2 separate regions of the Homo sapiens genome follow, and region 1 is linked to region 2. The links come from fine-mapping of genetic effects on gene expression. A gene starts in region 2. The other region holds a variant in brackets. All regions are shown on one strand. Distances are between the middles of the regions.

The links.
Region 1: its variant is fine-mapped to the expression of GABRA2 in esophagus muscle (GTEx, PIP 0.98). The same link has a PIP of 0.9 or more in subcutaneous fat.

The regions. Positions count from the first base shown.
Region 1 is chr4:46,437,329-46,453,674 of GRCh38, forward strand. No RefSeq gene overlaps it. Among named protein-coding and RNA genes, the nearest start is that of GABRA2, 55 kb to the left of the region's middle. The variant G/A (reference allele first, on the strand shown) is at 9,120.
Region 2 is chr4:46,385,199-46,401,540 of GRCh38, forward strand. It overlaps GABRA2 (gamma-aminobutyric acid type A receptor subunit alpha2), which reads right to left and starts at 4,930. Exons shown (of 10, transcript NM_000807.4): 1 at 4,537-4,930; 2 at 3,438-3,518; 3 at 876-991. The coding sequence starts at 3,508.

The sequences.
Region 1 (16,346 bases), 52 kb after region 2:
AATGGTAATGCCTAGGTTTTCTTCTAGGGTTTTTATGGTTTTAGGTCTAATGTTTAAGTCTTTAATCCATCTTGAATTAATTTTTGTATAAGGTGTAAGGAACCCTTCATGCTAAAAACTCTCAATAAATTAGGTATTGATAGGATGTATCTCAAAATAATAAGAGCTATCTATGACAAACCCACAGCCAATATACTGAATGGGCAAAAACTGGAAGCATTCCCTTTCAAAACTGGCACAAGACAGGGATGCCCTGTCTCACCACTCCTATTCAACATAGTGTTGGAAGTTCTGGCCAGGGCAATTAGGCAGGAGAAGGAAATAAAGGGTATTCAATTAGGAAAAGAGGAAGTCAAATTGTCCCTGTTTGCAGATGACATGATTGTATATCTACAAAACCCCATTGTCTCAGCCCAAAATCTCCTTAAGCTGATAAGCAACTTCAGTAAAGTCTCAGGATACAAAATCAATGTACAAAAATCGCAAGCATTCTTATACACCAATAACAGACAAACAGAGAACCAAATCGTGAGTGAACTCCCATTCATAATTGCTTCAAAGAGAATAAAATACCTAGGAATCCAACTTACAAGGGACGTGAAGGACCTCTTCAAGGAGAACTACAAACCACTACTCAATGAAATAAAAGAGGATACAAAGAAATGGAAGAACATTCCGTGCTCATGGGTAGGAAGAATCAATATCATGAACATGGCCATACTGCCCAAGGTAATCTATAGATTCAATGCCATCCCCATCAAGCTACCAATGACTTTCTTCACAGAATTGGAAAAAAACTACTTTAAAGTTCATATGGAACCAAAAAAGAGCCCACATCGCCAAGTCAATCCTAAGGCAAAAGAACAAAGCTGGAGGCATCACGCTACCTGACTTCAAACTATGCTACAAGGCTACAGTAACCAAAACAGCATGGCACTGGTACCAAAACAGAGATATAGATCAATGGAACAGAACAGACCCCTAAGAAATAACGCCGCATATCTACAAATATCTGATCTTTGACAAACCTGAGAAAAACAAGCAATGGAGAAAGGATTCCCTATTTAATAAATGGTGCTGGGAAAACTGGCTAGCCATATGTAGAAAGCTGAAACTGGATCCCTTCCTTACATCCTGGGCATTACTTTTAACCAGACTATCCCCTACTTAAACAGCAAACATTCTGAAATTATATGCAGATATTTATCTATATGCATCTTTTACAACTTTTTTCCTAAGGAAGAATCAATATTTCTCACCAGTTTCTCAAGGAAGTCCATGACCCCCATATTTTCTCTAAAGGTAGACAATAATCTTGAGCCATTCTTCATTAAAACCTTGTTTACAGCATAATGCTCCACCAACTTTAAAATGATTTACATCTTTTATATCTATTTAGGTTTCCAACTTATGCTATCTTCTGGGGCATTGAAATCCACAAAGTTGTTCTCCATTATAGAAAGTGATTATTTCCATTTTCTTGTACTAAAAATCCTTTAAAAATCAAATTATATACACAAGTTTTAGCATTACAGGAGCTTGGGAACAAGTCCCCAGTGAGAAATACTGTAAGGTGGTGCTTCTCAAATTATCTGTGAGGAAAGACCACTTCTTTTTTCTTCTTACCTCTAATCTATTGCAGAGTGACACTGTTACCGAATAAAATTTGGAAATATGACAATGTCAAATTACTGTAAAAATGTCTAAGCACTTACTCTCAACTTTTGTACTTATCACAGATCCATAACAAGTAGTTCACAGATGAACACCATTCTTTGGACCGCATTTTGAACACTAGCATAATTTGCTGAAGATAGAATGCACTACATATTAGGGTCATTTGTGTTTCATAACTAAATTGTGAAAATTGAAAGACCTACATGTTTTTAAAAATTATTTGTATTGTATTAAAAACATATAAGTTATCTACCATCTTAACAAAATTGTAAACGTATAGCATAATAATAACTGTAAACGCAGTTTTGTATAGCTGATCTCTAGAGCTTTTCCATCGTTCATGACTGAAACTCCATACCCACTGAACGGAAATTCCTCCATTTCCTCTTCCCCTCCAAAAGAAATTATTATTATTATTTTATTTATTTATTTATTTATTTATTTATTTATTTATTCTTTTTTTTTTTTTTTTTTTTGGGACAGAGTCTCACTCTGTTGCCCAGGCTGCAGTGCAGTGGTGTGATCTTGGCTCAATTCAACCTCTGCCTCCCTGGTTCAAACAATTCTCCTGCCTCAGCCTCCCGAGGAGCTAGGACTACAGGCACATGCCATCACACCCAGTTAATTTTTGTATTTTTAGTAGAGATGGGGTTTCACCATGTTGGCCAGGCTGGTCTCGAACTTTTGACCTCAGGTGATCCACCCACGTCAGCCTCCCCAAGCGCTGGGATTACAGGCATGAGCCACCACACCCAGCCAAAAATTAATTATTTTTAATGGTAAAAATTCAATCTATTATGGTGATAGGGAGGAAAGGCAAATTCCCAGCCCTGTCTTAATGTATTTATGGAATGATTAAATCAGAAGGCATACATGATCAGATGACAGGACTCAAAGAAGAATAAAGAGTTATTTATCTTTCTTTCTCTAGCATGCCTAAAGATATGATGATGGGAATTGCTGTGTTCTTTGTTACCACAAAAATCTCAGCTATTGTGGCGTGTATAGCCTTCATTGTTACGTTTTCTTTTAAAACTAGAAATCTTTTGTTTTGTTTTGTTTTGTTTTGTCCTAAAACAGTTTTATTTTTTATTTTTTTATTTATTTTATTTTTTTTTTTATTATTATACTTTAAGTTTTAGGGTACATGTGCACATTGTGCAGGTTAGTTACATACGTATACATGTGCCATGCTGGTGTGCTGCACCCACTAAGTCGTCATCTAGCATTAGGTATATCTCCCACTGCTATCCCTCCCCCCTCCCCCCACCCCACAACAGTCCCTGGAATACTATGCAGCCATAAAAAATGATGAGTTCATGTCCTTTGTAGGGACATGGATGAAATTGGAAATCATCATTCTCAGTAAACTATCGCAAGAACAAAAAACCAAACACCGCATATTCTCACTCATAGGTGGGAATTGAACAATGAGATCACATGGACACAGGAAGGGGAAAACTAGAAATCTTAACACATACAAGCTTCAAGCACCTTTCATCCAACCCTTATATTACAAACAATGCCTATACAAGAATGTATGAAAAATGAAATCAGATTTCAGGGTGCTTGTTATGTAGCAAGACAAAGAATGTAAAATTAAATTAACACAAAGCATCATAGGACAAGCATCTTATGAAGCAAAAAACAAAAACTTAAAAAAACTAAAGATGTTAAGAGATGTTAAGAGGAAGAAGAAACACTTTTTTCTAGGGGTAGGGATGAAGGCTAATGTGAATAACTTTTGTTTGTTTTGTTTCTCTATCAAGTTATCCTTTCAATTTTAATTTTGGAGGAAATAATTTTATTGTTTTTAATTTATATGATACATTTTCACTGTACAATGTTTCAGAAACCATATACCAGATGTGTTTAAGGGCAGGGGCAATGAGATTGAAGATGATAAAATGAAGACATAACTGGAAAGCCCGATCTTGAAGGAGTTCAGTTTGGGAAGGGCATATTTTCAAAACATGCACCTTATAAATGAGCAGAAAAAAATCATAAAGTTATCTTAAAGCAAGGTAAATATTGGGTTAGATGAGAGAGATCACACCGATCTTCCTACATAAAATAGGCCAGATTGAGAAATCACACTTAATTTTCATATGAAATAGGAAATGTGGCAATTTGAAATGGACAGGCAAAATAATGGAATAGAGAGTCTGAGAAAAGTAGGGAACTTTGAGAATAAATGTTACAGTGACTGTGCTGGCAAATCACCAAAATAGGAATAATGTTAGTTTCGTTGAGAACCCAGCTAGAACCAAACAACACAGTTCAATTTTGGAGTCATCAACATTGGGAAAATTCCTTGGATTGATTATGGGGAGATTCCCTGAGTCATCTTTAGTGTTCTGAGGTAATTGAAACATTTTTCTACAGATGAAAATAAACAAAATTATGTCTGAATTCCTCTTTCAAATAAACATACAATATGATTATATAAATATAGGAAATGACTCAGAATCTGTGAAACTACAAGACTTGGTTGTAAAATAGTTTATCTCTTTGATTAGATTTTGTTAAAGATAAACATAAATTCCCATATGACCATAATGGTCATTTTAATGAAAACTATCTACTGAATAATAATCAAAACACAATTACTTGATCAGATTTTGTCATAGTCTATTTACATCATGGTGAGCAGGAGGCTCACTACTGAGCACAGTTCTAACTGCCTACCAGATGTGTTCTACCAGGACATTCCACCAACCCCTCAAATAAAAGCTGTAAAGGAAAAAAATCGCTTATTTATTATCTTCCCTCCTCCAGCTCCTTTTCCCCCTGTAGTCTCATAAATGATTCTGTTGAGATCATTCTTATTCCAGGAACTAAAGCTAGAAATCTTAGAAATTGTTTTAATCTTCATTTTTTGTGTGTACACAGTAGGCATATATATTTATGGGATACATGACATATTCTGATAAGGTATATCATATGTAATAATCACATCAGGGTAAATGGAGTGTCTGTCACCTCAAGCATTTATCCTTTCGTTGTGTTACAAACAACCCAGCTGGACTCTTTTTGTTATTTTTAAATGTATAATAAATTATTGTTGAGTGTAGTCACCCTGTTATGCTATCAAATACTAAACCTTGTTCATTCTATTTCATTATTTTTTGTACCCATTAGCCATCTCTCCAATGTACCCTTCCCAGCCTTCTAACTCCATGAGTTCAGTTGTATTAATTTTTAGCTCCCACAAACAAGTGAGACCAAGTGAAGTTTGTCTTTCCGTGCTTGGCTTATTTCACTTAACATAATGACCTCCATTTCCATCCATGTTGTTGCAAATTACAGGATGTCATTCTTTTTTATGGCTGAATAGTATGCCACTGTGTATATGTAACATATTTTCTTTATCCATTCATCTGTTGATGGATACTTAGGCTGCTTCTAAACTTGGTTATTGTGAATGGTGCTGCAACTAACATAGGAGTGCATATATCGCTTCAGTATACTGATTAGATATCTTAGAATATTTTAAAATTACTTTATCTGTCTTGACAATCAGAGCCAATATGATGTCAAATCCATTTGATATAATAATAATAATGAAATAGACAATATTCCTTGACACTTACTATGAGCAAGGTGCTGTGTTAAATAAATACTTTGTAGGTTTTTATTTTCATTAAACCTTCATTCCCATACAAATATATAGGTAGTACCTTTATGATCTTCATTCTATACATGAGGAAAGGCTTAGAGCAAGTGAATAATTTGTCCAAATCCATGCATCTGGTATGCAGGGGAGCTGAAGTATGAATTTATACTCTTACCACTGTCATGTACTCTTTCACCTTCTTTCTATTGAAATTCATTCTCCTCATTCAGTATTTTATCAGGTTTTTATTCTATCTAAGCTTTCTCGTATACTGCTGCCTAGCTGATATTCTTACAGCACAGCTCTAAGTCACCTCCTTATTAAAATATCATCAATATATTTGCATTGATTAATAAAAGCAACACAAATTTTGTGGCCGAAGGGTCAAAACTTTTATACTTTGGATGCAATTTATCTTTCCAGCCTTATCTTTCCACATTTCCAGCCATACAACCATATCTTCAGCCAAATTAACAATTTTGCTTTGCTTCAAAGGACTATGCATGTGCAAAAGCTGGGAAGTGTTGAGTGTTTGAACGAGTTTTGGTGAGTCATGCCTACAGAGTAGAAGGAACCAGACAGGGAAGGTGGTTGTGGCCAGACTGCAAAAGAACTTGAGTCTCACACAACAAAGTTTGACTTTTAGCCTAGAGCATAGGGGTAAAGGTAAGGGATGGTGGGGACAGAGTATGTGCTTGTGGGTGCACAGACACTATTTTCACTATGTTTTGATGTTATTCTGTCTGAAAAAATAAGCTATATTTGTTTGTTAAGGGGGATTTACATCAGCATGTTTATAACAATTAGAACTTATAGCAAGTTCAGTGATGTTTGTTTGCTTCAAATAACTCAAGGGTTAATGTGAACTATGAGCCATTCTTCAACTAAAGTATATGCTTTTCTCAGATTTTAAGAAGTATCAAGATTGGGGAAATGTCACATGAACTTTAATGAAAGCTAATCATATATAGTTATTTTCAAAAAATGAAAGTAATCAACGCTGACCTGTAAGTAGTTGTTTTGACTAAATATAATAGTCAAACCAATCTGTTGTGTACTCTACAATATGATACTGTAAAATTGACAGTGATTTCATTAACCAATATGGAATTTTTAACTTTAAAAATGTATTACTCGAAAATATTGGCTGGGCACAGTGGCTCACGCCTGTCATCTCAGCACTTTTGGGAGCCTGAGGCAAGCGGATCTCCTGAGGTCAAGAGTTTGAGACCAGCCTGGTCAACAAGGTGAAACCCTGTCTCTACTAAAAACACAAAAATTAGTCAGGCATGGTGGTGCACACCAGTGGTTTCAGTTGCTCTGGAGGCTGAGGCAGGAGAATCACTTGAACCCGGGAGGCGAAGGTTGAAGTGAGCTGGTGCCACTGCACTCCACCCTGGGCAACAGAGCAGGATTCCATCTCAAAAAACAAACAAACAAACAAACAACAACAACCATAACTATATATCTGATTATTTCTTCACTTAACTGTCTTAGAAAATCCAAACATAAGATATCTATTTTTGAATACATTTGTTATTATTTTACATGGTTTATAAAATTAAACACAGATACCAAAAATTCTCAATTAATAGGCAGTTTTGTATTTTGCGTTCTAAGTAATGAGCCATTATTTTTTAATTTTACATTTTATAAAAATAATATTTAACAAATTATAAGCATAATGGTAGGTTTTATTAAAACAGTGTTTTTCAAATAAGTTCGACTGGGTGGTTTAAAAACTGACTTACATACATTACAGTATAGCATTTCCTATCTTGCATTCCATGCATGTGAGAAAGATAACTCGGGCCCAGAAATGCATGTATTTGGAAGACTGAAAATTCGATGGGCATGACATTTTCTAGCCAGATAAAAATATACATGCATATGTCTGTATGACTCATTCCACACAACTCAAAATTGCTGGAGAGTGGGTGTAGCTATGAATATTACTGCACAATGTAGTTTTCAAAGAAAAAAAAACAAATTTGGCAGCTTCCTATCTTTTTGGATAACTTTAGATTAATTGAAATTTCAATTAATGAAATGCACAGCTAAAAATGCATTAAAGGCACATCAAGTGCTAGAGAACAAATGAGGGAGAATGAATAATACAAAACCAAGATGATAACTTTTCTATGAATGTGCATATTTCGTCTGTCTGTCTGAATGCATTTTAACTAAGTTAGGCCATGTCTCAGACAGTAAATTGAAATGGGCAATTGATTTTTTTTTTGTCTGTACTTCAATATCATTGTATTTCCGATGCAAATTGTGAGATCTGCATTTTCCAAATAGTTTTTTTCAATTTCAAACATTTCTTGTAAATTGTCATTTGGTTATTGGTTGTGAATGAGCTAGAGTCTACATATATGGAATAATATAAAGACAGTTTTAGTAGGTGTCGTCTTTGAGTTTTTTTATATAAAATACTGTGGTAAGTGATAATGCGTTTTTTTACATGTATTATCTCTTTTAACCTCCTCCCCAAAATATGAACTTCTTACTGTTACTTTTTTTGTTTTTTTATATGTTAAAAATTAAACAGTATAACATATTCCAACAAAGCTAGTACATAACATAGTTGGAATTCGGGCCCCATTTTTTCTGATGCCAGATCCCATTTCTAAACTGGTATGTTATTTAACATCTTTAGAAAAGGCTTATTTCAGTTTACAAAAGTTATGGAACCATTGATAATAATTAAAATATAGGTGAGAGGAATGACATAAAGTTATGTCCACAAGGTTTGAAACATGTATGTGAAGGTTAATATATAAATAATTATATATTTATATGCATACAGTTTATTCATTTCATATTCCAATATTATATAAATTATCAATTTATACAAATAAATTCACTCAACTCTACATGCAGCAAAACCAATATTACCGTTCTTTTTTTATAAAAAGTTTTATACAAACATAGTAATGTACAGAAATTATGCAGGAAACCTGTTCGGAGGTCTTTAAATGGATTAATTTTTATCTGTACAAGAGCCTGGCGCACAGATTTTTCTTACAAATCCTTTTATACAACTTTAATAATTGGATGGTTAGTAAAGGTTAAGTTCAGCCAGACAAATAGTTGAGTGAAGTCACTTGGTTAGACCATGGTTATGTGAGGGAGAGAAAATAACATATCTGTATAGAAAGCGGCCTCCATGGTTCATTTTGCGCATCTTAATAGTCAATGCCAGTCACTGAAGCTGTTGCTATTGCTATTGATTATGAAATTAGCACTGTGAGTCATAAAGGTTTTGCTTACTCTCCTGCCATCCGTTTTATTGACTTAGGAACAAGTGAGCTTCAAACAGCAGTATTCGCTTTGTGCATATTGAACATGGCAGAAAGCAAACAAGCAAACAGCATTACTTTTCTCTAATATTGTCTGTGTGCTTCCAACCTAGCCTCGAAGCCTTCATTCACAAATTTATAAATGCCTGTATGTTTGCAACCTGAAAACTCCAGTTCAAGATGATCTCACCCTAGGGAATTCAATACATCCCTAATCATCTAAATAGTACTCTTGACCTTTGCTATTAGTCAGACTTGAATTTCCCAATTGTTCACAATTGTTCTTTCACAATTGTTCTTCTTTTCTCAGGTGGTAGATATTTCCCCAGATGTTAAATATAAGCTTCTTAAGGACTGATGTGTCAAATTTATTTATTTTTCCATGCAAACATTATTTTATTCATTTGAAAAGAATTTATCATGAATTTATTCAGCACTATTGTCTTTTGCTTTATTTAATTATAAAGGGTTATTTAATAATCTTGAGCTTCAGTTTTCTCATCTCTAACATGTGAATAATCAAA[G/A]TGAATTATAATTATAGTGAAAATGAAATGAGAAAATTTCTGAAAAGTGCCTAAAGTAGTACATTGTGGCTTCTGCATTTCTTTGAGTAAGGCCTTGGTAAATGTTGAATTGGATGATAGCTACTGGTTAGTTTCATCAAAATGATCAACAAATCATTTGTTTAGACATAGTTATTCACACCTCTAACTTCTTAATAAAATTGGACTTTAACAATGAAAATAAATTTTAGTCACTTGATGTATTCTGGAAAACATATCAAATGCATTGTGGATGGTATCTTTGGAAAGGGAAAGAGGAAAGTGGCTAAAGATCAGAGACAGGGGTGGAATAAAATAGGAGAGGAGCCTTTTATCGACCAATCAGGATGATGTGTTGGAGCCTGAGAATTCAGTTTAAATTATTCTTCTGCTCCTGAGAAAATGGGATAGAAGACGAACAAAAAGGAAACAACAAAAATGAAAATGCATTCATCTTGTTTGCAGGTACCAAGAAAAGCATATCCATATGTAAGTAATGATCATGAATACATGTATTTGTAGAGTATATGTAGTGTCTCTGTCTATCCATTCATCTATCTGTGTTCTTACTGAAGATGAGTGATACATGGCATTTAAATTATGATCTCCTTCAATTTGCACAGATATTTCAGTCTCATTGGTACTTACCTTCCATGTTTCTTCACAAACTACAAATATAGAAGACAGACTTGCAACTCTTACTTTAGTCTCCTTCAAACAATGATAAACATCAATATTATTGAGTAAAAGAGTCTTCTAAATATTGACCTTAAACCACAGAGAAATATATAGATTTCACCACAAAGGGTAATATTTTATTAAGTTATATAATATATTTGAAAATTCTAACTTAACTTTAAGACTGACAATACTTTTCTTTAAGGGCTTAAGTCATAAGTCAGTGTTATTCAATTATCTATAATGGGAAAATCATGATACAGCACTCAGAGTGAGTGCGAGCATTGAATTAAGATGGTTTTTAACCAAAATGAATGCATTTTAAATAAATATAATAATCATGCTACTTTATATCTCTACAAAGAGATCTTTAAAGCCAAAAATCCATGATCGACATTCTCCTATTGATTTAAACTATCTCATTTATTATTTTAATAGCAACAGACTTGCTAAATTTCTACTCCACTTAAAATTATGTAAGGTATACTCTTCAGCTAAGAAAGGACTATATATGTAGGCACAGTAGCAGAATATTTCTGAGTACACTTTCCATCATAGCTTTTTTCTTTCTTGCCCTTCTAACTCAGCATGTAGGCAAGAAGACACTTAGAAAATAGAACAATGCTAATTGGTTTTATCACATGTTAGTCAAAAATGAAATAATGGAATCTTAAATATCATCTTTCAGAGTACAGAGAGTCCACTCACTCTTTACAGAATATGCCTTGAATAATATCCCCATAAAAATATTTAAAGAAATTTGCTATTTTATTCTATGCATATGCATTTTCAAGGAAGAGTCAAATTTGAAAGAATATTTGGATAAAGTCCAAGACATTAAGACAAAGGCATATAGGTTTTAATCCTTACATTACTTTCATTGTCTGTTTAATATCATAGAAAATTAACTAGGCCTCTGTATAATTTTTGTGAAGTTATTCACTTAATAAGGGATACATTTTCCATAGAAATGATTTGGATTGAATCATGAAGTTCAGATTTGCTTAAGCATAAATAAATCATTATTCCAAAAGTGTAATAATAAGAAATGAAGTATTTCCAATAAAATTGTGATTTTTAATTGTAGAATGATGATCTTCATAGAAGAGTTTTATGTTCTTAATATTTGATGATATACTATATAGGGAATTTTGTATTAATTTGTCCTGGGGTTTTATTGTTGGAAGGAAAAAAGTTTACTAAGATTGGAGTACTACCAGGAAAAGCCTGATGCTCACAGAACAAGAAATCTTAGAAGGTAGCATATACTCAATGGTTTAAGGACAATGTTCCTCCACATGTGTGTGAGAATGTGGGGGACAGATGCCACATATTCATGCACAATGACCCCCATTTACAGACCTAAATGCATAGCCTTTACCCAGGTGATTCTGCTGCAGGTTGTCCTTTGACCATTGGTTTAGGATCTCACTCTCAACCTTGCAGCCTCAGAAAACTGAAACTATTTTAAGTTCATTAACTATGGATCTCTCTGTCTGGAGTAGACTCATATCGCCAACAAGTTCACAGAAAAAAACACATAACTCATGAGTTCACAGGGACCAAGGTATATAACAAAATGCTGAAGTATTTTTTTAAATTAAAACTACAACTTTCATGCAAGGCAGTATACTTAGGTCAGTAAGTCAGAGCAGTTATAATCAGAAAGCTAATTCAAAAATTGAAATAAGATAATCCATATGATTCAAATTTAAAAAATCAAGGTTTAAATTGTTATTGAACTCACAGAAAATCTTTTTAATTATGTAGAATGGCCATGGCTCTCTCCATCTTTATTAAGAAATATGAATGTAGGCTGGGCGCGATGGTTCATGCCTGTAATCCCAACACTTTGGGATGCCGAGGCAGGTGGATCACGAGGTCAGGAGATGGAGACCATCCTGGCTAACATGGTGAAACCCTGTCTCTACCAAAAAAATAAAAAATATTAGCTGGTGTGGTGGCGGGCGCCTGTAGTCCCAGTTACTTGGGAGGCTGAGGCAGGAGAATGGCGTGAACCTGGGAGGAGGAGCTTGCAGTAAGCCGAGATCGCGCCACTGCACTCCAGCCTGGGCGACAGAGCGAGACTCTGTCTCAAAAAAAAAAAAAAAAAAAAAAAAAAGAAAGGTGAATGTATAGACATTTGCAAAAGGATGTGATAGTCCTTCATATTTCTGTTATTCAGAATTAACAAAGGTTAACATTTTAATATATTTCATTTTTAAATAATTCCTTACTACTTAAATATTACATAATTTATATTATACACGCTGTAAATACATATATTGTCTTTTTGCTCATAAAACATTACAGATAAATAGTGATGATAATTAAGAATAATGTATTGTATACTTGATATTCGTTAAAAGAATGGATCTTAAATCATCTGACCACACACACACACACACACACACACACGATGACTATGTAGAGCTGATATATTACCTGGATTGTGGTGATCATCTCACAATGTGTGTGTCTATCAAAACATTAAGTTGTCCTAAGTATATATAATTTTTATATGTCTATGATATATCTCCAAGAAGCTGTTTATAAAAATGTACAAATAAATTCTCCCATGAAAACCACTTGGTACTCCTCTCTATCTCTATTGGAAGCTGTCTTCTGGAATCATGCATAAGTCGCCAGAAATACTGTTCATTGATATGAAAGTACGGAGTCCCTGTTGCCACAATGTTACCGTCAGCTGTTGACTGACCACGTTGCCACTGTCCACTGAAGTTTATCCAGGGATATTGACAACATGCTTATTCAATATAGGAGCCTGATGGATATTTTATGTAGGTAGATACAAACAAAATATAAGAAAAAAAACACATAAAAAGTTATATCACATAACTCATTCTAGAGACATAAATATAAACAAATACTAAGAATTAATTAAATTAGGAATGTCACACCCCAAAAAGAAGAATACATTGCAATCAAAAACAGATGATTGATTTATATATAAGAAGATATAGGCTGGGTGCAGTGGCTCACTCCTGTAATCCCAGCACTTTGGGAGGCCAAGGCAGGCGGATCATCTGAGATCGGGAGTTCAAGACCAGCCTGACGAACATGAAGAAACCCTGTCTCTACTAAAAATACAAAATTAGCCAGGTGTGGTGGTGCATGCCTGTAATCCCATCTACTCAGGAGGCTGATACAGGAGAATCGCTTGAACCAGGAGGTGGAGGTCGCCGTGGGCTGAGATCACGCCATTGCAATCCAACCTGGGCAACAAGACTGAAACTCTGTTTCAAAAAAAAAAAAAAAAAAAAGATATAATTCTTAGGACAGTGAAAATTTTGTCTACCTACTATGGCTTTAAAATTAATGCATAATGGCTTATAATCAAGACAATTTAAAATGACTTTTTGTGGGAGGGAAATCTTTACATAAATCACAGTGGTTCTGGACATGTCAAGAGGAATAAAGAGGTGTTGTTTGCTGGAAACACAGCCTGCAAAAAAAGTCACAGAAGTGGAAATGAACCAGCCTTATGCAGACCACATTGTAACACCAACTAGACTGTGGCTCATCACAACTGTTGAAGAGATTTTTGAAAATGAGTGAGCTGTTTGAGAGCCAGACTTTAACAAAAGGCTTTTTCAAAATGATTTCCTTAGATTAGCATTACTTTCATGGCATTTTGTAAAACACTGGTATTCTGTTAGATATTAACTAACAGAATGGAGTTCTGTTAGTCTGGAGTTAGATACTAACTCCATTCCCTTTCAAAATAATAATACATTGTACTGGGGGACTGCTAGCTAATATACGCTCTCATGGCAATTTACAGTATTAGCGTATGATTGTTACTATGCTATTCTGTGGCAGAGAAACTTCTTCACATTCGTTCACTTAAGTCACTGAACTCTTTTTCATAAGATGAACAATTTTTATATTGGTAAAATTTACAAAAGATGGTGGGAATGAGCACGGATGCTTGAACAAGAAAGTAGCATGGTAAAAATCATTGTTTAGAAGCAGAATGTAGGTGGAGGAAGTATGTGGAGGTAGTGAGGAGAAGGGGGAATTGTGTCCAGAAATTGGCAGGGCAGCTAATGCCCTGGTGCAGTCGTGAAGTCATGAGGATGATACCTGGGGCAGAGGGAATTATGAGAAAAGATGCAGTCCAAGAGACAATGAGGCAAATGACAAGAACATATCAATGGCTTGGATGTAAAGGAATGAACATAAAGGAGGGACAAAAACAGCTACTGTTAGTAAAAGCTACTCACTAGCTTTTTTCTCTTTATTGTTTTCGAAAAGCAAAAAGAGCTTAAAGAAGTCCGTGGGGGGCAAAAATTAAGCTCTATGAATGAATATGCACATGCTATGAAGGATAAAAGTGGAATTAGTAGGCCGGGCACGGTGGCTCATGCCTGTAATCCCAACACGTTGGGAGGCTGAGGCAGGCCGATCACATGAGGTTGAGAGTTCGCAACCAGCCTGACCAACATAGAGAAACCCCATCTCTAGTAAAAATACAAAATTAGCTGGGCGTGGTGGCAGGCGTCTGTAATCCCAGCTACTCGGGAGGCTGAAGCAGGAGAATCACTTGAACGCGGGAGGTGGAGGTTGTGGTGAGCCGAGACCGCACCATTGCCCTCCAGCCTGGGCAGCAAGAGCAAAACTCCGTTTCAACAACGACAACAACAACAAAAGTGGAATTAGTAAATTCTAATAAAGTAAAATATAGTTAACTAGTTAATAATTTAATCCATGCAAGTTGGGTCATGTACTTATTGAAAACTATATAAATCTATGCTATTTGTATAAAAATACATATACGCTAACAACATTTTATATATACATATATATCAATAGTATGTCAAACATTTTTACAAATGTTTTTGAAAAGTTCTGGAAGGCAAAGGAGATTTTAGTAATTGAATTGAGAGGGCATATAAGGTGGGGAAAATATAGATAAAATAAATATAGAAAATATATATTACAATTTCTAATAAGTCACAGAAAAAATGTGCTATAATTAATTTTTGTGGAAGTTTGTGATGTAATAAAATGAAAGGAGAAATGTCAGTTAATTCTCTATCCACTGCCAACTGGCTTCCTGTGGAATGACAGAGTAAAAGAAGTCAGGCAATAATAATTTCAATCACCTCAAGATTGATTTACTTTCAATTACACGTTCAGTCTGGTGAAAGGTGTTATAATGGCAGCTCAAGTTTCCCAAAGTAAAGTAGAACACGAGAAGCAGTAATTTAAAGTGTTCCACAGGCAGGCCTCTATCTTGACCTACACAGTCACTGTGGACATTCAATTATTGAACTCCTCTTTTGTTTACAATAATGCTACTTAATTCAAATCTCATCTGTAGAGTGAAGGGTCCTTTATCTAATTTCCATCTACACCTTTAGTAGATAAAACATACAGTGCATTGTCCTTCAGTTACAATAATATGACATTGGATCATCGTCTTTAAATGGCACTAAAAAATGTAAGGCATTTATGTAGAAGATACTACCAGTAACGAGTATGGCACTTTATCTCTTTACAAAGTACTTCTATGTTATTATCTCATTTGATATTTAAGAATAACAATATTATTATTAAAATTACTTAACAATTGATTGATTTTTCTTTTATTTTGCCAAGCCCTATATACCTATATGTATCTCACCAGCAGTTTTCAATATTGGATCAGTAGCACCATGGGTGTCAGTAGGTTCTTACATCATTATACTTATTTTTTATTTTATTTCTTTTTATTAATAAACAATATGAACCTATTCTGAATTATCTGAATTTTCACCTTATCATTGAACAAGTTTCAGTTCCTGTTTTGGAATTTTGGTGTGCATTCACACTATTTACCAAGAGAAACGCTAAAATAACATTTAACATTAAACAAAATGTTATCAAACTGAAGCCCAAAGACTGAGACATCTGTAAATATATTCTTGGAAAGATGAATACTTGGGGCCCAGGCCTGCGTTTCAGAGAATGGAAGCTACTGAATCTTGTTCAAGTGGAAAATAATTTAGCACATAGTATTATGAAATGATGTGAAGAATCATCAGGAGGTCTAACAAAATATATTCTAATAGATGATTCCCAAAAATGTTACAGAAATAAGCAGCTAAGAGAGCTGCTGCTACTATATCGTAGAACTGCCTAACTGAGTCAGCAAACTAACACTAAGGCTTCTGGCTCAAGAACCACATGATCATGGCTAAAATACATGCCAGCACATGTGCAATTCATCTTTATTTGTCCAGTAGATATAGTGTTTATCATGAAGGAAATGTTCAATAAATATTTGTTGAACAGATAGGTGGATATTCTTTCTCATCTGTTATATTGCTCTATGCATAAATTCTTACCCATGCTGTCTTTTGAGTCCATGTTGGCAAGTGCCCTCAACAGCAATTAAAAGAGAGTTAACTATGGCCATGGAAAAGAGCAAGGTATCAATACTGTTAGGTATATTGTTATAGAGTTTTGAATTATTTAATGTAATAAAATATGATAAAGCAAAATCTCTAAAATCTCAGTGATTTA
Region 2 (16,342 bases):
TGCAAAGTCACCAAACCCGGCAATAACCAGGTTAACTACATAAATCTTGTATTAGTATCAACTGTTCAACTAATTTGTCTTAATTTTGAATTAACTGTGAAACTAAATGTCTTAATGATTATGAAACAAACAAGTGATAAATGTGATCATTAAAATTTAACATATTAGCCAAGCCAAATTTTCTTTCCCTTTTCGAATAAAAATATATTTATTTTTCTGAATTAAAAATTTTAATTTTCTGAATATTTATTTTATTTTTCTGAATAAAAAATGTTTAAATTTGAAATCAAACTGTGCCACAATCCAAAACTTTAGACCTATGTCTAACGTATATCTGAAATGTCTTTGAAAGTTTCAAGAATAACAAAGTTGTGCTGTATTCTAGAAATATCACATGCAAGTGTAAAGAAGTATCATCATAGAATGCTAAAAAGTGTATTCGTTAAAATACAACCACTATATTCTTAAATTTTTTATGTTCCTCATTTCTGTGTATCTGAGCTGACATGAAAATATGATCAAAGAAAGTAAATATACTTTCTTTACACATGAAATATACTTTCATATGTATATCTGCTCAATAATGCTAGATTTTAACATACTCTAAGTGTGAGAAAGTTAATTTAAAAACTATTCATGCAGAAAGTCTGGGCTCCATATGACTTTAGGCATTCTATGAAAGATATGTTAAATACATTATGTATGTATAAAAGGAATCACAGACAATATTTTTTCATATATCTTACTTTCTATTTTCTATAATTTTATATACACAGTGATGCATTCATATATAAAAGTATTAAAATAGGAATATTACCCTTAACTTTTAAAGGCATTATTTTACGAGAGTTTTAAAAGAGGAAAACTATTTTTACCTCCCAGTCCTGGTCTAAGCCGATTATCGTAACCATCCAGAAGTCTGTCAAGAATTCTCGTAAAGATGGTAATGTTATTTTTAGCCTCATCTTCTTGGATGTTAGCCAGCACCAACCTAAACAGATAATTTTAAAAGCTGATATATATACATATGTGTGTTTTGCAAATGCCAACATGCTTTTCTTCCTTAATTTAAATTTTAACACTCCCTGAGCTATTAGTACCACCCGTTTTCCTCCTTTTTTTTTAACTTCTATAAATATCGGTTTGTCTTCAAAAAAGGTAAACATGAAATTGAAATAGATTCTAAATAGTAGATTATCAGAAGTTTGATGTTAACATTATTTGAGATTCTTGCCCCTTTAACATTTTATGTGGACTATTCATTTTCTTTCTAAATCCATCTCCTGGGATATATTATGATTGTAGATTAACACATGCAAACACTATTAGTATTGCTATTCTACAGTTAGAAAATTCCAATAATCAAACAGACTCCTGAAATAACCGTTTTCAATATTAATTGGAAAATAAATTGCTTTTTTGGAGGTAAATATATTTTCTATCTCTCTCATAAGTGTCTTTCTTTTTCATATGTATTTTTCTCTTTTAAATCAGGATTTTTTCCTTACTTTGGGTATACCTCCACCCAATGGCCAAGTGCAATATAAGCATCAGGGAAACTCCACTGGCTATGTGCCAGGCTCCATGTAGCCAGGAGGTGGAGGTGGGCTCTGAAAGCATCAGCAACACATACACAGCTGCAGAGATCCTTAGAGCCTAGTTCTTCCTGATTGGTCTCTGAGAAGAGCAATATTGTAAAGATTAAAATGCCTAGTTACTTTGTTTTGGTGACAATTTTGTAGAAAGAACAAATGGTCTTAAAATATCACCAGAAAAGCTTTAGAAATTGTGATTTTCTCCATTATTTCTCCATCATAAAGCCAAACACCTGATTCTGTGACATGCAGCAATTTGTTGCAGAAGCAACTAAATGTATAAAACAGAATGTCCCTTTTCATTGTCTTTTTTTTTCTCAGAATGAATCAGAGATTTAAATTGCTGGCCCCAAAAAAGAATCATTTATATAATAGAATACAATACTGGCATAAGCATTACTGGTCAAATATAGAACAGAAAACTAGTTGAGAGAAGTATGGTTAAACACTGAGATTTTCAATGATTATTAATTGATAATGGATTGTCCACTCTTTTAAAATAAAAGACAATATGTAATTACATTCTGATCAAGGTGCATTGTATAAAATATTATTAAAAGTGTCCATTTGCATTTAAATGATTACACACCTAGTAGCTATAAATAGTCACAATACATCAAAAACTGGTAACCAACTTCAAACAAATATTGTCTTAAGAGCAGAGAAAATATTAAAGTATTCAAATGAAGATAAACATCTACAAATTAAATAAGTGTATCACTTTATACCCTCTAGCCTCAAAAGTTTCTGTATTGCCTACTTAAGCTAATTTTAAAACCAATAACTAAGATGTTCATAAAGTTCCACATATTTTCATTTGAAAGTGTTTCTTAATCACATTTTATATTTTCTTTCTCAAATCAATATGTAGTCATTAAATTAGTAGATATTTTCCAAATGAAAGCAAGGCTTTATGAGATAGATGGCGTCTCAATTCTAAGAAATGTTTTCATACTTTGACCATTACTTGGACAATTAAATAAAAAGTTAAAAGAGAAATAAAGGTATAATAAAGACTTATTAGATTTTTAAAAATAAATAGTTACAAGAACATTCTTATAAAACTTGTATCTTAAGTCTTCTGGTATTTTGAGAATCATATCCTAAAGGCATTAAAGAAAAGATGTCCACTGATGATGAAAATCAGGAAAGTCTACAAAATAAAATGAAGTTACTGAAAGCAATAAAAATTAATTTCATGTTTTTATAGCATAGGCAAAAGAAAATTCATTACATATTTTAAATCAGTACTCCTGACTGTAAGCATTTGAGAAAAAAATCTTAATAATGCAAAAAGTCGATGATTAATAAATCTAGCTTTTGTTTCATTGTTTGTGATTGTGAAGTTGTATACTACCTCCACCTAGAGGTTTAAGACTCACACATCTTTTGGGTTTTCTATGGTGACTAAAGGAGCCATACCATTAAAAAAAGAAAAGAAAAAGGAAAAAAAAAATTAGTTAACACTCAAATCACTTAGCTGGTACTTTTCTGTCAGCTCGAAGGAAAACTTGGCTTCCTTATCGAATCCTGGTGTTATATTATAAGTGCCTATAATTAATCACTTCAATTCCTTGTAGGAATATGCCATTGAAAGGATTTTCTTTTCTTCTGTGAATGTTCTGCATGGAAAGTGTTTCTGTTTGCTTTTGGATCTTATCACTAAGAACGAGAAGCAGTGAAGTTTTTACAGTCTATTACTTCATAGTTCACTTTCCCCATACACCCCCTTTTCTGAGAAATAATTCTTTAAAACACCCTTGATTTTCAAAAGCATTAATGGCCTACAAGAAACACATCTTTGCCCTGAATTAAAATAGTCAAATACAATAAATATCTCACCTGGCAGGGTCCCACACCAAGAAAACAAAAAGCAGGAACTGCATGTTGTAGATGTTCAATTTTGTCTTCATCACCGCCGCTCTTTACAAAGCCATGGAATGAAAAACAAAATACACTTAAAATTGCCTTCAGTTTCACTATCCAAGTAACCCCAAAGAATATCCTTTTAGTTAGGGATTCGTGTTAAAGCTATGGAGATTACTTCCTGGACTCTGTGTAGGACTTGATGATTGAGAGACGATTTCTTTTTTATGGACCCCCACCCCCACCCTTTTCCTTTCTGTTTCTTTCTTTCTTTTTTTCTTTCTTTCTTTCTTTAACAGCAAGATGACCAAGTAATCAGACTTCTCTCTGCCAGGAACGTCCCCCAGCCTCATCGTCAGCAAACACTGTTTTGCGCACACGTAATAATAACACCCTGGACTTTAAACTGGCATAGCAGCTGGAAAGGGAATGGGTTGGAGGGGAGGGGAGGAAAGGAGAGGAGAGGAGAGATGGGTACTTCACGCCACAACCCCCTCAACCAAGACCACCTCCGCAACCACAGCGGGAAAAGCTAGGGGCAGGCAGCCCACTTTTGCAATTACTCTACATTACAGTGAACTGCGGTCCTCACGTCTTCTTTTCTTCACTCCCCTTAACAAAATAAAATAAATAATTTCCCTTCCTGCCCACCCACGGTTGCCCAAGACCAAGTCTTAGAGGCAGCCGGGTTCCGATCAAGTGCTGCGAAACGACGCGTTTGACAGCTGCTCTGGAGCCGAGGATCACAATAAGAGAAGGCGCGTGAGGCTCCGGCAGCAAACACCAGCCAGGCAGGCAGCGGTAATCACAGTGAGCAAAGTTGAAGACTATAAAAGAGCCAGGCTAACGTGCTGCCGAGCAGGTGTCCTGGATTTTATTGTAGTTGCAAATATGCTTCTGGTGATAAGTATCGAAATTATTTTTTAAGTGCGCTGGGGAGGAGGGAGGTGCGGGAATTGAGCCTCCTCCGTTTCCAGGGAGCCTCTGAAAGTGGGGTGGGGGGAGATGAGGCATGCACGCGAGGCAAAGACAAACAGGAAAGTGTCTCTATCGGGACCAACGTGTGCGACCCTACCTGAAACGGCAAGCAGAATTCGGTGTTTTCTTCCTTTTGCCCTGATCTTGACGAGATAGGAAACTTGGGAGAGAGAGAGAGAGAGAGAGAGAGAGAGAGAGAGAGAGAGAGAGAGAGAGAGAGAGAGACCGAGACTGCAGCAGCCAAGAGAGCGTGGAGCGATGGGCTGGTGGAAGCCGGAGAGGAGCGCTAGGAGCCGCGGCGGCGGCGCGAGGTGTAGAAGGAGGCGAAGGCGTTCGTAGTGGCGGTGATGGGCGGAGGAGGAGGAAGAGGAGGAGGAGGAAGAGGAGGAGGGGGAAAACGATGACAGGAGCTGGGGCCGGGGGGGGAAATTGGGGGGACGCGGGCGGAGGCGCGGTGCGCGCCGGCGGTGGCGGGCACGAGCCCCGCGCCTGGAGGAGGAGGAGTCAGGCCGGGTAGGAGGGCTAAGGAGGTTCCCGGGAAGGCAGGGCCCCCCCTCCCCCCCCTCCCCCCCCCCCACACACACACACTCCCCTGCCTCGATCCCTCGATCCCTGGTAACTGACCGTCGCCCGCCTGGCACTAGCAGCGGCGCAGACCCGGGCGGCGTCGGGCGCCTGGGTGCGCTCGGAGCGCCGCTCCCCTCGCCCACACCTCGCCGGAGGAGCGGAGCCCACGCGCAGCCTCGGGCTGCTCCCCGAGGCCGCTTGCTGGGGCTCCCGAGAGGCCCCAAGGTTCCTGACAGAGCTGCTGTTGGGTGTTGGTGTAAAGCCGGGAATGTAGTGTGGCGGTGATGCCCTAGATCCCTGGGGCCGCGCCCTGCCGCCCGTCCCCCAACATCACCCTACTGTGGAGCGACGTGGCTGCTAAGAGGTAAAGAGGTTCCGCTCCTGCTGGAGGGCAAGGGGACTAATCACGCCTTTACTTAGTCATCAACGCATCCACGCAGGACCAAGTTCAAAGCATGTTGCGTGAAATCAGACAGCAGGAAGTTTATTTGATTCCTTAACCCTCCTGATATACCATTCATTCCTTCACACTCCCGCAATAAAGACCGATTTCCCCTGAAAGCTCTGAGAGCTGGAGAATTCCCTTGAGCCAGTCAGTAAAGTCCATTTGCAGATTACACACACACCTTGGGAAACCTCCCGCTCACTTCCAGCAATCCTTTTCCAACCTCTTTTCACAGGCGCCCTCCCTAGCAGGTGATCAAACTCAATCAACAGCTCCAAAAAGTTTACATTACCCAGGAGCAAAAACGGACCTGCTGTGTTTCTACTACCTCTGCAACTCATTCCCCAGTGGGAGGAAAGGTAACAACGTTTGAGGTTTTCCCCCTTTAGGGCTTTTTGCTGGCAAAGGGACTTGGAATTCCAGTCCCATCTTACACTTTCAGCATTGTGTGTTTGATCTGTCTCATTTCTGTTCTGTTTTATCTGAGGCGATAGAATCCAAACGTGCAACTTGAACAACAAAAAAAGGGGGGGACATTTTCCTTTTTGTACTGCACAGAAGACAGAATGTTATGCACATTTTACTAAGGCAAAGCAGAGCCAGTGTTTATCTCCTCCAGAAGTTGTTATAAACGTTAGACACTTTAAAGGAAAAAAGAGAGAGAGATAAGTATGCTGATACGTTTCTGTCATTTTACATTCAGAGTCAATATGTGCCAAACACTTCAATTTTGTTAGTTATGCACCAAAAATTCAGATGTTTTTCCTAGATGGTGCAGTTTTTCTAACAGGCACTGCTAATCTACAGTAAATTTTAGCTTTGCTTTGAAGATTATGGGAGGAGAGTAAAACCTTTACATTGTAAATATTTCCAGCTGTCCTTTTTAATCTATTAATCACCATTTTCTGGATGAGCATTTAATATGTTACAACCTAAACAAACATTTGCTCTCTTATTTAGCTTGCTCTGTGAAGAATGGAACACCACCCAGCTCTCTCCTCCATCATTAATATTCTTTTCCTGACTTGCCCATTGCAGAGTCTAATTGAAATTCACAAAGATAAAAAGCATGCCATTTAAAACCTTGCAACCAGAGAACCTAAGTATCTTATACTTGGCATGAACAGTTCACTTGCTACTGTATTTTCCTATTTTCCATTTCTGTGAGTCAATCTTCATTAAAATCTCTATCACCTCTCCATTTATATTACTAATAAATTGTTGATATTTTGATAATGGAAGTTAAGCAGTGTATGGTTTCTTCCCAGCCTTAATTGCTATGCTCCAACAAAATTTTTCTTTAATGAATGTCACAATTTTTGTAAATATATTCATATATTATTCTAATACTTATAAGGTCTTCTCCTGGATTCTAATATCAAATTATAAATGTTTTAATTTTTTTCGTTCAACATTTATATCAATTGGAATTGTTTGTTCTGAGGAATTAGCTTTTCCCATTAGCACCCTTATTAAATATGTAATTTCAATGACATATGACCCTCTTATATGACACTTCACAAAGTTCAAGCTGCTTTGAATGTTTTTCACCATTTTGGTTTTTTTTCTGTAAGTGTATGTTACTACATCCCACCGATTTAGAGATGCATTTACTGGAGAATGACCCACAGTAAAAACTAAATTTAAAAGTTTTCATTATAAAACCTTGATTTTTAGTTCTCACAAAATGTTTTACAATTTTAAATGTTGGATAGCTGTAACTTAAACTTCAAAGCACATTAAAGGAAATGGAACTAGAAAAGCTGATTGTGGGCAGCAGATTTCTGGTGTTTAGCCATATCTATACTGCTATTTTGTTGTATTACTAGCCCAGACAAATTTCTCTGGAAATTTGGAGGATTATCCAGCTTCCTCAAACAGCTGACAAACTCAGCCAGATTTTCTTCTCTGCTCTTTGTGATAGAGTGCAGGTTAACTGCCTGAGATCTGAGCCAGCCTGTGTGGGTCGTGACTAAGCTCTTCCTACCCACTCCTTTCAGAGCATGTCCTAAGGCAACCAATCCTGAGGAAGAATTGACAACTAATTGGTTGCCAGTAAATCCATTCCCATCCAGGCTTGGGCAGCACAAAACCTTCTGTTTCAAACCTCTTTGAATTACTGATCAACAAATTAGGTTGGTGGGTGGAGGTGGTCACTTCTTACATATTCCCCAACCCCAACGCTGAAATCCTTAAGGAAATTTCCACATAAAGACCATGAATAAAAGAAAGCTGAAGAATTGGGAGATCTTGGTTTTGTCTGATTTCTTATTAGCTGACATCTCACAATATTGTACAATTTTAAGATTTGTTATAAAAACTGTTCATGTTCTTGAACAGATATTTTGTACAGCTTCCATTTTTAGAGCTCAGCCTAGCATTACTGCTATAGAGAGCTACTACTTTATATGCCCTAGGGGACTTCATTAATCTTTAAGCTTTCTATAGAGTGATATGTGTATAGAAGTATATATATTACATATGTATATATATAATACACCTATATTTATTGTACACTTATATGCATACATACATATATACAAATATGCTAATATATCTGTAGATAAATATATATCAGAACTAATAAAAATAGACAAGAATATTTTAATAAGAATAGCATTTAAATACCACAATTCTACAAAATACATTTAATCTTACTACTACATGAATTGGATCATGATGATCTTTACATGCTTTAAAGAGCAATATCATAATTACTTCAACAAGAATAGCATCTCACTATATTTAACTTTTTAAACTCTCAGCACATATTTCATATAATAAATTTGTGTATACTTTAACTACATACATTCCTATGTGATTCATTCATTTGAATGAGAATACAAATTTATGAAAAATTAGGAACGGAAGCACAGATTATTCTGTTTTCAAACAATTTAATATTATCTTCTACTTTTTCCCATTGAACTAGTTAACTAATTTCAAAGTGGACCTGGAGTATATGTCAGTTCTCACATATTCACCACATTACTGAAAGACAAAATGAGACAAAACCGGTGCAAATTCTTAGCTGACAATTATCAATTCAAAACCAGGACTTGGTCAAGCTCTATTTTTCCCATATGTTGCATTTAGATGGAGGGTTAGGCCCCAAGGTTCTGAGAGAAGAAACAGCTGTAAAGTGGAAGTAACTAGTTTCACAAACAAATAATTCCGAAACTACTCTCTTACATTCACGGATCTAGGTCACATTTCATTAGAGCTAAATATATCATGTGTATTAGCTTGGATAAACTATGCACATTACCTTCTTCAAATAGAATTAGTAACTTTCTGTTTACCAAGTAATTTTACAAATTCTCATCCAACTTGCAAATTGAATATATCAAGCATTCAGGATATCCTGGTGGTTTCTGAGATTTTTAAAACAATTTACAACAAGACACACATAAGAATTATTTGTAAGAAAATTATTTTACCTTCCTTTCTTGAAATTATAGGTATAATTTATTTTTAGGTTAATCAATTCCTTTCTAAAACAAAGATAAAACTCTGGTAATTCAAACCAAAAATTTCCTCACTGAAAACTATGCTTGTTAATGAAGTATAAGCGGCTACATGATCAGCAGCTTTACCTGTGAGACATGTCCTTTAAATGATATTCATAGTAATGACAAGAATAAAAGGAAACCTGTAATGTCTTCATTGGTATAACAGCTTAGATTCCATTCTCAGTGTTTTGTATTAACTCATTTAATCTTCAAAAGTAAGAAGTTATTATTATTTCCATTTCACTGATAAGAAGGTTTAGACACAGAAATATTAAGCCGACTCAAGGTCTCACAGTGCTGGCAAAAGGAGTAGAGCCCTGGCAACATGGCTCCAGAGTTTCCGTAACTACTATACTATTTGTAATAACACCTTATCATGCGCAATTATTCAGACAAAGGCAACAACAATAACAACAAAATCAGAAAACATAGCGAGTCCAGGACCTAATTTGAACCCATTTATAAACACCTCAGGTGGGATAAGATTGGTCCAACTGAAGGATTATTCCAATATCATTATTTATAGCATCAAAACACTTGCATCTTAAGAGGAACAGAGGGTATATATAGTGAAGAAATAAACGAAAAATATAATCAGGCTATGGGCATTTTATGGTCAATCAGTGCGACATGAAAGAGAAAATAGAAACCAATTATTTCTAAGAAAAAGTGAATAATGCTATGGCAAATTAATTATGGATATCAAATGATTTTAAATATAGATCATTTCTCTTTGGTAGAGACTTTTTGTATTTGAGAGAGTGGCTTGCTCATAGATGCTCAATAAATAATTGCTGATCTTCGTAAAGTTAAGCACTTTGGAATACAAATTGGGAGCCTTGGTTCCAGAGCCTGACCTTGGGCAGTCTTAGCTATGACATATTCTGTTACCTCTTAGAGCTCTATCTCTGTCCATCACTGACTATCAGTGCTTAGATACCTTTTTTCCTCTACCTTTTCACCTTTCCCCTATGGAAATCCTGAACACTGGGAGATATTCATTCTAGACTCTTTCTCAACCACCCACCAGTACCATACACATACACACACACACACACACACACACACACACACACACACACAATTACTATCGCTGAGAAAGTACCTCCTATCTATCCATCATCTGAACCATTCTATTCATTACCAATTCCATAGCCTTATCTCTATCCTCACTTGGAATACTGCAATACTAATAAATAGTGGCCTACTAATTAGTTTCTCTGCCTCTGATCTTCGTTTTCTCCAATCTATCTTCCATTGAAACAACAAAAATGTTTCTAAAACTAATTTTGATAGTGTCACTCAGCCATCTAAAATGTTTTCTTGAGAACAGTATAAGGTGCAAACTCTTTTGCATATCACATCTGACTTCAAATTATAGCTTATACCTCCAGTCTCAACTCTGCTTTCTCTGCACACTCCTTGTTACACACATGCACACACATGCATGCACATACACACACATGCACACACATCCATAGCCAGCATTCATTTTTCAAGCATCATTCTTTCCTCTATGCTTCCTGCAAACATAACTTTTTGCATTTCTCTCAAGAGCCAGTGGTTTCATGTCTCTATGCTTTTGTTTCTCACTGTCTTCCCCTACTGGAATGCCACGTTCACCCTATCTACCTGATGAACACTCCAAGTTTCAGCCATGTAAACTACTTCTTCTTCCAGATAAAATTATCATGCCTTACTTTTTACTCCTGTTGAACTTAGCACAGGCATTTAACATTAAACCTAGAATATTCAACTGAACTTATTTATTAACTTTTCTATCACACTGTCTTAGTCATTTGGGGCTGCTATAACAAAATACCATAAAATGCGTAGCTTTTAAACAACATAATTTTACTTTGTACAGTTCTGAAAGTCAAGAACTCCAAGATCCAGGCACTGCAAGATTCAGTGTCATAGATGGTGCCCCTTGCCATGTCTTCACATAGTAGAAAGGGGGAGGTAGCTCTCTGGAGTCTCTTCTATAAGAACACCAATCTCATTAATTAGGACTCTGCTCTCAGGACCTAAGTATCTCCCAAAAGGCCTCACCTCCTAATGCCACAGGGATTGGGATTTCAACACGCGAATTTTGGGAGAACACAACATTCAGATCATAGCACTCACCCTATTGAACAGTGAGCTATTTAAAGGCAGAAGGAGACTCATCTAAGCTATCTTTACCTTCTACATGCATAGGCAGAATCAAGCATATATCATCTTTCAGGAAATTCTTGAGGACATGAGCATCTGTACCTTCATATGTGATATAGTTTGGATATTTGTCCCCTTTAAATCTCATGTTAAAATTTGATCCTCCGTATTGGAAGTGGGGTTTAGTGGGAGGTATTTGGGTTATGGGGGCAGGTCCTTCATGAAGGTCTTTGTGCCCTCCCCCAGTAATGAATGAGTTCTTCTTCTATTAGCTCCCTTGAGATCTGATTGTTACAAGAGCTTGGCACTGCCTTCTCTCTCTCTTTCTTTCTTCATCTTTCCATGTGATGCCTTCTTTCCAATGCCTTCTGCCATGAGTGGAAGCAGCCTGAAGCCCTCACCAGAGGTAGATGCTGGTCCTGTACAGTGCCAGAAGAACCATAGGCCAAATAAACTTATTTTCTTATAAATTATCCAGGTTCATGTATTTATTTATAGCAATGCAAAATGAACTAAAACAATATGTATATGGGAATCATAATCCTTCCTTCAGAGGAATGAGATGTTACAGAGAGTTGAGGTTAAGAGCTCAGACTCTGGTTCTAAATCCGAATCCTGCTGCTTATTCACTATACAACCTTTGACAAATTCCTTAGCCTTACCTTGTCTTAGTTTTCTTACCTGAAGAATAAAAGTATTTGTAGAACCTACTATTTTTGGTCATCACAAGTATTTTATGAGTTGATATATGTGCACAGAACAACACATGGATCATAGACAACACTACACAGTGTTTGCTGGTGTTACTGAAGTATTTGAAAGCTGTTAGATCACTGCCTCCACATTCAGTTGATGAGATTTAGTTGCATGCACAGCACTTGAGTTTGTTGATTCTTTTGGCTCTTACCTTTTCCCATGAGTGTGAATATGTTCCCATCCACTCTTTCCCACCCACATTCAAGCTCCCACATTCACAGAATGACCTGTCAGAGCCCAGCACATATACCTACATTCTCTTACTTTGCATTAGATTATTTTTTCTCATGAATACATTGTTTCCCTCATTCCCTCATTTTTTTTCTGGTCTTTTTTTTTCTCCTGTCCTCCTTTTAGTATCCTATGCCCTCCTTTTTATTCCAGCTCGGCCTGTTTCCATCTTTCGTTAGTTCTCTAATGTCCCCTTTTCCTCCCTCTTTCTCATTAGCATTCCTACATAGCATACATCTGCATTTGTGTATGCACTTGTCTTTTGGCATATGGGAAAATGTGTGTTTATAAGAGTGCATACAGATAAGAAGACAGTGTCTATTTAAGCAGATGGGAATGTGAGTGCTTATGCTGCACATGGATGGGCATCCCTGCCTGTGTTTCTGGGTAAAGGCCTCTGTATAAGCAATACTATTAAATCCACTCAAATGCATGGTATTGATCCATTATATTAATTGAATTGAAAAGTCAAGAGGGGCTTTATTTTTTAAATTGGCTTGATCTGCCTGAATTTTTTTTAAAAAGTCACATGTTTAAATGAAGCCCAAATCTGTAACACCTAGAGAGCTAAATTCATTTGTCAACGTGAAGGCGTCCAGCTGCCCCTCCTACCCATGCCCTAGAGTGAAATATGGTTAAAAGTTGCTCTTCCTTTTTCTGTGATTTCTGGGTATCCAGCATGTATTCAGTTGGAAAAGAGAAACATGAAAATTTTCTGCATTATGAATTAAGAGTTAACAAATTATCCTTAAAATAGGATAACAAACAATTAAGATAACAAACTATTCCAAAATATTTTGGTGGGGAGGGAGACATTTTTATAGAGGCTAATGATGGTGCTCTCCAGCATTATTGCTCTCCAGCAAATATTGCCAGTTTCCAGCATAGATGTAAGAACAGATCAAATTTTCTCACTTTCCTTGAAATTAGAGTTGCTAATGAAAATTGCTCTGACCAATGATAGGGAAGCTAAACAGACTTAGGCCATTTCCAGATGGAAACTGGACGAATAAGTGTCTGATTCACCATGTTTACTCCTTCTCTGTTACCTGGGTATGACCAGTGATGCTCCAAATAGTGCTGGTTGCTCAGTGGGTCCTTGAATGAGGATGACAAAGTTCGGAACTCTTAACTGACTGGCACTGAACTTATAGCATGGACGAGAAATACATATTTGCTGCTTTAAGCCTCTAAAATTTGGAGTAGTATCTACTACAGAATAACTTGATCTCTCCTTACAGCTGAAATATGAGGAGAAAAGCAAAGTTTTTTTGTCTTGTTTTAATACCAAATATTGATTGATGAAGTGGTATATAAAATCTTTTCTGGCAAAGAAGATTTTTTAAAAGATCCAAAAATCACAGCCCATAAATACTTGCTTGCCTAAGCCTAAACCAAATTATTTCATGGGTCTTTGGTTGTATTTATGTTTTTTTCCCATTTCTTAACTGTTTTTATCTTTATTTCTCCTCCACCTAAACACCCAGAGGGGTTGAGAAAAAGTCTGAGATTGTTCTTGAAAAACATTTCTTCTAAATTTCCGTTTCATTCTTCCTTATAGTGGCACAGACATTGGGTAGGTGGATGATATTCATTGAGTTCCAACAGGAACTCTGATTATCAAATCATCTGACAGGTATTAGAAATGGGATAGAAAATGATTTAAAAAGAAGGGATAAGGAAAAGAGGACTGATGTGACAGCAACTGTTAGATGTTAAAGTGAAAGAGAGACGATTAAAAAAAAAAAACTGCTTCTGAGTAGAAATGCATGTAGGAAGATATCTCCATGTTTTCACTACATAAAGAAAAACAAAAGAAATCGGCTCTGACCTAAAAATACAATGAGAACTTTGAGGCCTTTTTCAGAGATTTTTGACAAGGTAGAAAAGGCCAGTTAGTTACAGGTTTTAATATGAACTATTTCGTTGTCATTGCACAATTCACTGGAGCAAAAATTTATGGGTTTAAACTGCTTTTAGCTAGTCAATCAACATCAAACCATTGAGACAATTTAGCATTCAAATTGTGAAAAGAAAAATGTACTTGTCTTTAATAAGCCCTTGAGGGAACAGAAACTATTTCTCTCTCCTTATATTCCTCACAGTGCTTTCCAGATAGTAAGTGCTCAATAAACATTAATAGAAAGTACAATAGACAAGTGAATAAACATGAGTAAATTAACAAATGAATGAAAGACTGTGCCAAAAAGTTCTTAAAGGTCGTTTATAGTAGCTCACCTGTTCTCACCTTCTCCATTTTGACCCTCTCTAGCCTGGCCTCAATGCAGTAGGCTGTGTGATCTTGTCGCAATACAGAGCTGATCGTGTCACTGCATAACTTAAAATTCTTCAAATACTTTCCATTTCTCCTAAGTTCAAGACTAGATTCCTTACATGGTTGATGTCTTGTATGCCTTGGCTCCTATCTGGTGTGGAATCATTATTTTCCTTGCTCCAAGAACACCAGCCTTCTTTCAGTACTTGAAATATGCCAGGCTCCCTAATGGCATTTCTTTTCCTGCCATGGGGCATCATAGCACATGTTTCCTCTGATGGAAGCCTCCTACCTCCTTTACCTGATTTGCATCTATTCATTCCTCTTAGAAGAAATTAGGAAGCACTTCCTTAAGCCTTCCCTGACATAGTAACCCCACCACCAGTCTCTGTTATGTTCCCTTGTTAAATGTGCTTTTTTTTTAAAAGATATCTTGTCTCAGTTTTTTAATTGTTGTGTGTGATTATTTTATTAACATCTGTTAACCAACAGTGCTATATATTCCATGAGTTCAGGTGTCCTGCTTATTTTTATTTAACATTGTATATCCTTGAATTGGTGCATTGCCTGATTCCTTGTAAGCATGCAATAAATCATTGTTGAAAAAAATTAAAGAACAAATAAATGTATAACAAGCTCAAAATGTGATGTATAATGTTACTTTCAAAGATAACATTTCCTATGCCTAAAATTAAATCTATAGTCCAATTATTTGGACTGTTGCTATTGTCATAAAGAGCCTATGGGGAACTAGGAGCTGAAGATAACGTCACTGCCTCTCTACACTTATGAGAAATGAGACGAGGACACATTTTGTGTTGGTAAAAAAGTGGGAGAGAAATTCAATCAAGGTAGGCCAGCAAAAGGAACAAAAGGAAATGATGTATTTGGTTCACAATAAGGAAGTTTTTTTTTGTTTTTTGTTTTTTTTTTTTGAGACCAAGTCTTGCTCTGTCTCCCAGACTGGAGTGCAATGTTGCAATCTTGGCTCACTGAAAACTGCGCCTCCCAGGTTCAAGCAATTGTCTGCCTCAGCCTCCCGAGTAGCTGAGATTATAGGCACCTGCCACCACGCCTGGATAATTTTTGTATTTTTAGTAAAGACAGGATTTCACCATCTTGGCCAGGCTGGTCTTGAACTCCTGACCTCGTAATCCACCCACTCAGCCTCCCAAAGTGATGGGATTGCAAGCATGAGCCATTCAATGTAGGTGGTAATGATAGAGGCCAGTGGGCTATTAGCTTCAAAGGATAAAACTTCAAGTAGGTTATTGCCAGTGTTCAGGAACTGACATCCATCAAATCTTGCCTTAGTATCTCTGCCTAAAATAGAATGATCTATTATTATTTAGCTATAATATAGGACTAAAGTCTGATGGATAAAGAAGAACACTGACATTAGAAAATCATAGACTGAAATGTTTTAAGGGACTTTGCCATCGAAACCAATCCTGCCATCTATTTCTACCTAGGGCTATGTCTGAGCCATAAAGGTGACTAACTTTAAGAAACCATTGAATTTACAAGTCATCTAGGAGCTCACTGAGGAACCCTCTCAAACACTCTACCACCACCACCAGCTGGTTTGTTTATGATATTTCCTGGTGCAATTAACTGTAGACATTTTAGTATAAGTAGTAGACATATGTGTATAGGCAATTTAAATTTAACTAACATCTTATGGTGGGGTTAATTAACCTAAGAAAATTTTCAGTATAAATCAACCTGTTTTAGGCTTATTAATTAGCATAAGACCTATAATAATCTTTTGGCGATAATAGTAATGGGATTTGAAGCTAAGAAGACTTTAAGAGGACCCAAACTCCTTGCATGAATAAGGTCTACAAAGAGCAAGCTCAGCAATGCCCAGAGTGCTGCAAGCCAACCCTAGAGACTTTGACCTGGAGACATCTTGCCACTGGATCCAATTACAAGGCCAGCAGATCTTGCCATCAGACTCTCT